Linked DNA regions of Homo sapiens. The protein of the gene in region 2 purifies or fractionates together with the protein of the main gene of each other region. This does not show direct contact. Each region holds a gene or a part of one and is shown on either strand. Other genes may lie near its edges. The genes, in order: TNFRSF13B and RHBDF1.

Region 1 (3,807 bases), on a different chromosome or scaffold from region 2:
GGACTTCCCCAGTGACAGCTGCTTGAAGGTCTAGAGGGTACTCTATCCCAGCTAAAATGGAAGAAGGGTAAATGTCACCAGTGAAAATACAGAAGTGATAAGTGAGGATGTCTGACCAACTGACAGGGTGGATTTGTCCCAGAGCTGGAGATGAATTACCTGCATGGAAAACAGAGGAGTTACCAACTCCAGGGAAACAAAAGACATTACTGAGAAAAGAAAGGTAGGCCAGGTGTGGTGGCTCATGCCTGTTCTCCAATCACTTTGGGAGACCAAGGCAGGTGGATCATTTGAGGTCAGGAGTTCGAGACCAGCCTGGCCAATATGGTGAAACCCTGTCTTCACTGAAAATACAAAAATTAGCTGGGTGTGGTGGTGCATGCCTGTAATCTCAGCTACTTGAGAAGCTGAGGCAGGAGAATCACTTGAAACCAGGAGACAGAGGTTGCAGCGAGCTAAGATTGTGCCACTGCACTCCAGCCTGGGCCACAGAGTGAGACTCGGTCTCCCCCCCCAAAAAAAAAGAAAGAAAAAAAAAAGAAAGGAAAAGAAAGGTAATCATAGGACATGTACAGCAGCTCAGCTGTGGGCAATATTTATATTGTCATAAATAAATGAGCCATCTGAGTCAACAAATAAGGTGGAGATGTGGAATTATTCCTTCTGTAAAAGAGTTTACTCACTGTGAGAGCCATTAGACCATTGTCAGTGAGCAAAGGCAAAAACAGGCTTTCTAGGAGAGAGCAAGGAGAAGGGGAAGAACAAAACTGCAGAGGAGTTGACATTCTGGAGCAGAGCCGGCAGCCAGCAGGTCTATCTTGACTCCAACTGAAAACGCACCCCTCCTTCACCGGGGGCCGGGGGAGGGGAAGCTGCATGCATGCAGATAGTGACGTCCAAGTTAAGTTCTCACCTTAGAAAGTGGGGAATCAATCCAGAGCGTCTAAAATGGACAAGTCAAGGACCAGCAGGGGGAGTGGACCAGATTCTGAGCCACTTTGGGGATGAGCCTGGGGAAAGCCACAGGGCAGCCCTGCTTGGAACCCTGGGCTGTGAGTCATGGGGCTGGTACTCCTTGCTGTGTGACCTTGGGCACGACTTCTGCTCTTGGACACCCAGCGTCCTCCCCTGTAAGATGAGGATGCTGTTGCTTACTCACAGAATCACTGTGAGCAGCATATGCATGGCAGGTGCCTAGTATGGTATTGAGCACGTTAGTAAAGACAACCCCCTGAGCTGCTGCCCTTATTAATATTGCCATTTCTTATGATAAGGAGTGCTGTGCTGGACAAGGCCTACACCTGGATCGAGACAACAAAAATTTTAGGGGCCAATTCCTGTTGGCGTGAGCCAACTCCCTCTTTTCCTCCTTGGTGGGGAGGTGTCTGTGCAGGAGTGAAGGAGCAGGGTTGGGGCGATGGGTGGGCTCCTCATTCTTGCCCTTTACAATTTCACCAAGAAAACCTGTAGATGTGACTGAAAGAGAAGGAACAGTAAAAGCTTGGCAGATAGGAGGAATTTCTTATCAAGTTTTGTTTTTGTTTTTGTTTTTGTTTTTTTGGTTTTTTCGAGACGGAGTCTGGCACTGCCACCCAGGCTGGAGTGCAGTGGCACCATCTCGGCTCACTGCAAGCTCCACCTCCTGGGTTCACGTCATTCTCCTGCCTCAGCCTCCAGAGTAGCTGGCACTACAGGTGCCCACCACCACGCCTGGCTAATTTTTTTGTATTTTTAGTAGAGACAGGGTTTCACCGTGTTAGCCAGGATGGTCTCGATCTCCTGACCTCCTGATCCACCCGCCTCGGCCTCCCAAAGTGCTGGGATTACAGGCGTGAGCCACAGAGCCCGGCCTTTCTCATCCAGTCTTTCAAGCAAACACTGACTGCAAACTTGGGCTGGGGGCTATGAGTTGAGCTCACCAGTGGGGTAGGGGCAGGAGAGGATTCCAGCGTGCAGAGATAGGGTGTGTGCCCCGATAAGGCTGCAGCCTGAGACCTGAGGGATGTGCATGGGAATGGATGGTGACCTTACAACCTGGCTTCTGCTAACTGGGAAGGAGAAGGAGGAAGAAATGGAGGAGGAAAAGAAGGATGAGGAAGAGGAGGCAGAAGAGGAGAAGAAGGGAAAAAGAAGAGAGATGAGGAAGACAGGGAAGAGAAGGAGAGAAGGAAGGAGGAGGAGGAAAAGATGGCTTTTGGTTTCTGTGAGCTGTATATGCTTTTTCCCCGGGCTATTTTGAAATACTGAAAATGGCTCTAAGACCCCCCTGCCTGCTCCCACCTCCACTCAGAATGAACCTTCAGAGATGTTCAAGGTTGAGAGTCCACCATCTCCATGCCTTTTTTTTTTTTTTTTTTTTTTGAGATGGAGTTTCACTCTTGTTCCCCAGGCTGGAGTGCAGTGGTGAGATCTCGGCTCACTGCAACCTCTGCCTTCCGAGTTCAAGCAATTCTTCTGCCTCAGCCTCCCAAGTAGCTGGGATTACAGGTGTGTGCCCCTACACCCGGCTAATTTTTGTATTTTTAGTAGATGAGGTTTCTCCATGTTGGTCAGGCTGATCTCGAACCCCTGACCTCAGGTGATCTGCCTGCCTCAGCCTCCCAAAGTGCTGGGATTACAGGCGTGAGCCACCACGCCCGGCCTCCCATGCTGGTTCTAAAGGAAGAAGAACTTAGTTAGGTCCTGGGAAAACTGGTCAAGTCACCTTCTCAGTTTTCTGTTTGTGAAATGGGGACAGCCACTTCTACCCATCATAATTTTCACCTCCTGCCAGCTCATGTTGAAAACGGATTCGCCATGGTTCAGTGACCCAGAGTGTGCCGGAGTGAAGTGCCCGTGGTGGGGAAAGCACGGCTGAGTCATCTTGGGAAGGACTCTGGCTGTGCACAACCTCAGTTTTCCTGACCTGTAAAATGGACACTCTAGACTTTCTTTTGTAGATCTTCTCAAGGGTGTGTACATGACAAGCATGTAACTGGCCCAAGACATGGCTGCTGCTACTGGTATAATAACTACCAGTAGTGATATAAATAGTATGAAATATAATGGGTTAATAGTTATCATTTTATAATAATTTATAATAATGTAAAATAATTTTAATATTAGTGATAATTAACATTTTCTTTTGTAGAGACAGGGTCTTGCTCTGTCTCTACAAAATTACAGTGGTGCAATCATAGCTCACTGCAGCCTTGAACTCCTGGGTTCAAGTGATTCTTTCCCCTCAGCTTCCCAATTAGCTAAGACAACAGCTGTGAGCCCCTGTGCCCAGCCAATGATAATCATTAATAATGATAGTAGCATCAAATTAGTGCTCTGGGCTGGGGGAACTACCCCCAGAACCTGAACTCCCAGAACCCACTGCTGGGTGACATTTCTTGTTGGTAATGTGACATTTCAGGGTATAGCCATTCTGCCTCCCCGTACTGTCTCATTTGTCTCTGAATCCAGTGCCTTCCAAGATAGCAGGCACACAGCAGGTGCTGGATAAATGCTAATCAGTAGCTGGATATAGTTGTACTCAGTAAAGACTTGCGGAAGGAAAAGCAAGCCGCATTCTTGCACTGTGCTGATAGACAGCTGGGCAGGGATCATACTGAGTTTCAGCAGCAGCTCCCTCCCTGCCTGCATCTCCTCCATCCAGGGAGGATGCAGGGAGAGGTGGCCTGGTGGGGAAAGGTGAAAGTCCTGGGTGTTGCTTTCAACACTTGGGAGAGAGGATTCTTGGCACAAAGTGACTGGGCCAGAAACGAGCACAGGAAATAATTTCCCTCAGATCGAAAAGCAACCCGCTAAAATATTTAAATG
Region 2 (3,907 bases):
TATCCCTGGCAGGTCAATAATGCTAAGCATGGAGACTGTCCTGTCTCTGGCTGTGAGCCTGGCATGGGAGGGGTGGCACGTGCAGGCTATCGGAGCACTGAGTGTTGGCACTGGGGCAGGCTCCCTCTCACCCGGTGTCCGTGATGCACTGGCAGTCATCCCCTGGTGGAGTTACCCTCCACCCCCTCCAAAGCTTCCATTGTCTCCTTCTACATGAGAATTGTGTTGATATTGCTTGTGTTCAGAGAGCACCCATTATGTGCAGGCACCGCCCTATCCCGTGGCATGGACAAGGATATGGGCAGGGGAATCTTGCCCAGGCTCTGGGATCTACCGGTAAGTGTACCAGCACCTTTAGTTCAAATTCTCCCCTTTTCTGTCTAGCCAAGGAGCAGGCCATTGTCTGCGTCGGGCCCTCAAGTGCAACAGCTCAGTTTGGAGAGGGCTGGTGCCACCCAGACCCAGAGGATGGCACTGAAGCAGCAGCACCTTGTGACCAGCACAGGGCCTGAAGACACATTTGTCCGAGGCATGGGGGGGCACCCTGTAGAGGGGTCCTTAGGGACCCATGGGACGAAGGGATCCCTGCACCCTCTATCCAGAGGAAGCCTTGGCCACCCACCACTCAGAGCTCCTGGACAGCCCTGCCCGTACTCTGCTGTTGGCACCCCTGTCCCCCACCCTGGGAGGGTCAGCCCACCCAGTGTCAGGAGAGAAATGCTGGGAAACTCTCACCAGCAGCCCCAGCGGAAAGCAGAGTGCCATTTTGAGTCCAGCCCAGATTGTGCAGGGATATGAGCCCACCCCGGGGTGGCCGCTGAGCTCTGAGACAGTGAGAAGAGCCCAGAGTGGACACCAGACACTGCGCTGCCTCTGCTGAGTGGCTTCGGGTGGGGCCGGTGCAGCCTGGCCTGAGTGCCTGCTGGTGGAGCGGGGCTTCTGGGGGTAGGGGCACAGGGCAGGGGGAGGGGTAATGACTGTGGTCCTGAACTGAGTGTGTGCATCGGTGTGTACACGTGTGTGTGTGCACGTGTATGTACCCATGAAAGATGTACATGAGTAGGTGGGTGCATGTGAGCACGTGCATGTGCAGGCGAATGAACGCATGAAGTGGAAGGATGTGGGGACGTGTGTGTATGATTGTGAGTGATCGGTGCACATGAATGTGTGTGAGGGAATGTGAGTGCTTAGTGGGATTGGGTGAGTGTGGGATACAGGACTTGTCAGCGTGGGCCTCTGGAGGAGGTCGGGTTTAGGGGAGCCAGGGATACACACCCATCCTCCGCCCTTTACCCCGTGCCTGCTCTCCCTCCTCACCCTCTTCTCAGCACAAATCAGGGCAGGACAGCTCAAGCCTCAATCTGGAGCCAGGGAGAGGCGGAGCCGCCCAGCGCTGACACTGCGGTCCGCTCCCACCAGGTCCTCCGTCGGGCCGAGGCGCTGGAGACCCCAGCCCCAGGTGTCCCCGCAGGCGGACCCTGGGGAGAAGGGAGCCCGGCGGCCTTCCGGGAGGAGGTGACTTGGGCCGGGCAGGCGGGCGGCGCGCATTCCTGAGCTCTGAGTCAGCGCGACCGCCCCGCTCCGGCCGGGCCCGCCCCCGGGCGCACGCCCCTCGCTCCAGGGCATTCCCGGGCGGGCCGGACCGGCGGGCGGGCGGGGACTCGGCGCGGGCCCTCCCGGCCAGCGGCGGCAGCCTCCTCCCCGGCGCCCTCAGGACCCCCCAGAGCCCCCGGCGGCGGCAGTGAGTGAGCGCGGCCGGGAGCGCAGGGCTCCGGGGGCGGGCGGGTTCCGGGGCTGCGTCCGGAGGGCGGGGCGAGTCCTCAGCACCCGGGGCCGGAGCTGCTCAGAGCGGCCGGGGCCGTGTCGGGGCCGGGGCCGGGGCCGGGGAGGGGTCGCGGCGAGGCCCCCCCGGGGCGGCCGGGCTTTTCTTCCTGGAGTTTCCCGAGTCGCCCGCGGAGGCGGCCCAGCCCCGGATTCCTAGCCCGGCGCGCCGCAAAAATAGCCCGTGGCCGGATTAGCAGCCCCAGCGGCCTGGCCGGGCGGGACAGCTCGGCTCCAGCCCCCGCCCAACAGCTGAGGGTCCCAGGAGCGGGAGTCTAGAGTCCGGGGGTGCCCCAGGTTCCTCTGAACTCCCCCCGCTGCATTTTCCTTCCCGGCCACGACCGGCGGGTGGTGTCTCCGAGCTGAAACTCCAGCCCAGGGCGGGATGGTCCCTGTCCCGGCTGCCCTCACCGATGGGAATAGCAGGAGCCGTGGAGCTGGGGGTGGGGGACTGACTCCGCCTTCTGCCCCACGACACTGACTCCCCCATCTGTACACTTCGAAGCTCCAGGGTGGGCTGGGAGCGACTCCCGAAGACAGACTCTCACTCTGTGCGCAGAGGCCAACGGGGACAGGCCTTCTCCCGGCTGGGGTGACAGCCAGACCCCAGATGCTCAGGGCATTGGCAGAGGGCCTGGTTGTCTGTCATGCTGGGGGCATGTTTGTGGGGCTGGGCGGGGAATGGGCAGGGGATCTTCCCTGGCCCCCCAGGGCCTGCTTCCGACCGAGGTGGTCCTGACCAGAGTTTCTTCTGTGTGTGCCGCTTGAGATGGTGAATGTGTGTGTCTGTCCCGGTGGGTGGGGCCTAGGTCTGGAGGCCCTTCTCCTATCCTGGGAACTCCCACCCGCCAACGGGACTTCCTGTTGGAGACCGGGAGAAGATTCAAGGATGAAACTGGCTTTTCAGGTTTGACCCAGCTAGATGCCTGGGCAGTCCCAGGCTCGGTTCTCCTCACCCCTGTGGAGCTAACCCCAACCTCCTAGCCCCGACCCCAAGGGTGGGCAGAAGCTGGGGACCAAGCAGCTGGCTGGGGCTCAAGGGGTCCCTGAGGCGGAGCCCCCTGCCACCAGGGGTCATTCTGGGCAAGCCGGGCCCCTTTTCCTGAGAATGGGGCAGGGGCAAATGGAGTGCATGGGAGTCTGGTGGTGCCAGATTGAAGGGGCCTCAGACCCTTTCCCAGCCCTTCCAAGTAGCTTTCACTGGCTGGGTGGCCTCCGTTGCACAAGCAGGCCCCTCAACCAGCACCCCTCATGAGCTGGCCGGTCCCCACCTTGGGGAGCTGACTTTCTAGGGTGCGCTCTTGGTTTAGGGGGAGTCGTCCAGGTCTCCCCTGCCTTTCAGGGACCATCAGGCCCTCCCCTAGGATCTTCCCAGCTACAGTCCCTGCCCAGGGCACCCCCAGTTGCTCTTGGCTGTGAGGGCCTCCGCCACACCGGCTCCAGTTCCCCCACCTCAGTGTCTGTGCCAGGATCACATTTTGCCCAGTGATTGGATTCCTTGGCTTCTGCCTTTTTTTCTGAGTTGGACGATTTTGGGGGTGAGTCCTTCCTTCTTCAACTGAGATGCCCCTGATGGAGCAGGTGGCAAGGGGTCTTAGAAGGGTCTGACAGCCGTCCACAGCCACAAGGCTGAAGAACCCAGGTGGTCTGCCTTGTCTTCTGGGGGTCTGCAGACAGGGTCCCTTCCACTGCAGCTCCTGGGCAGACCTGGCCCAAGGCTTTGAGCTCCCTTATAGGCCCTGGGACCTTAGGCAGTGATGGGCTTCTCTGAGCCTCAGTTTCCTTATCTGTAAGATGGATACAGAGGACCCCTCCCAGGGGTTAGACAGACCAGTGTGATCAGTCAGGATCTGGTTTGAGGAAGCTGAGCCAGGCTGCTGAGGACCGAAGCCATTTCTGCTCTGACTTGGTTTCCCTCCTGTGGCCTCTCTAGTCCTATCCTGCTTCTGGTGGGTCCTGGGAGGGGGTTGCAGGGTTGCTGAGCCCAAGGGTGCCTGGGCACCTGGGTGCATGTGTGTAGGGTCAGTCAGGGACACCTCTGGAGGGCTCTGACTGGTGACTGGGCTGCCCATCTGTCCTCTGGCCA

Evidence for each region.
Region 1: the proteins of RHBDF1 (region 2) and TNFRSF13B purify together in Homo sapiens (co-immunoprecipitation; one large-scale study listed by IntAct). This does not show direct contact.

What each region holds. Positions count from the first base shown.
Region 1 is NC_000017.11:16,961,999-16,965,805, forward strand, and holds part of TNFRSF13B (tumor necrosis factor receptor superfamily member 13B), read right to left. Parts: intron 1-3,807. UniProt on the Homo sapiens protein: Receptor for TNFSF13/APRIL and TNFSF13B/TALL1/BAFF/BLYS that binds both ligands with similar high affinity. Mediates calcineurin-dependent activation of NF-AT, as well as activation of NF-kappa-B and AP-1.
Region 2 is NC_000016.10:70,347-74,253, reverse strand, and holds the start of RHBDF1 (inactive rhomboid protein 1), read left to right. Parts: upstream 1-1,622; 5' UTR 1,623-1,741; intron 1,742-2,048; exon of another isoform or gene 2,049-2,590; coding exon of another isoform or gene 2,591-2,728; intron 2,729-3,907. UniProt on the Homo sapiens protein: Regulates ADAM17 protease, a sheddase of the epidermal growth factor (EGF) receptor ligands and TNF, thereby plays a role in sleep, cell survival, proliferation, migration and inflammation. Does not exhibit any protease activity on its own.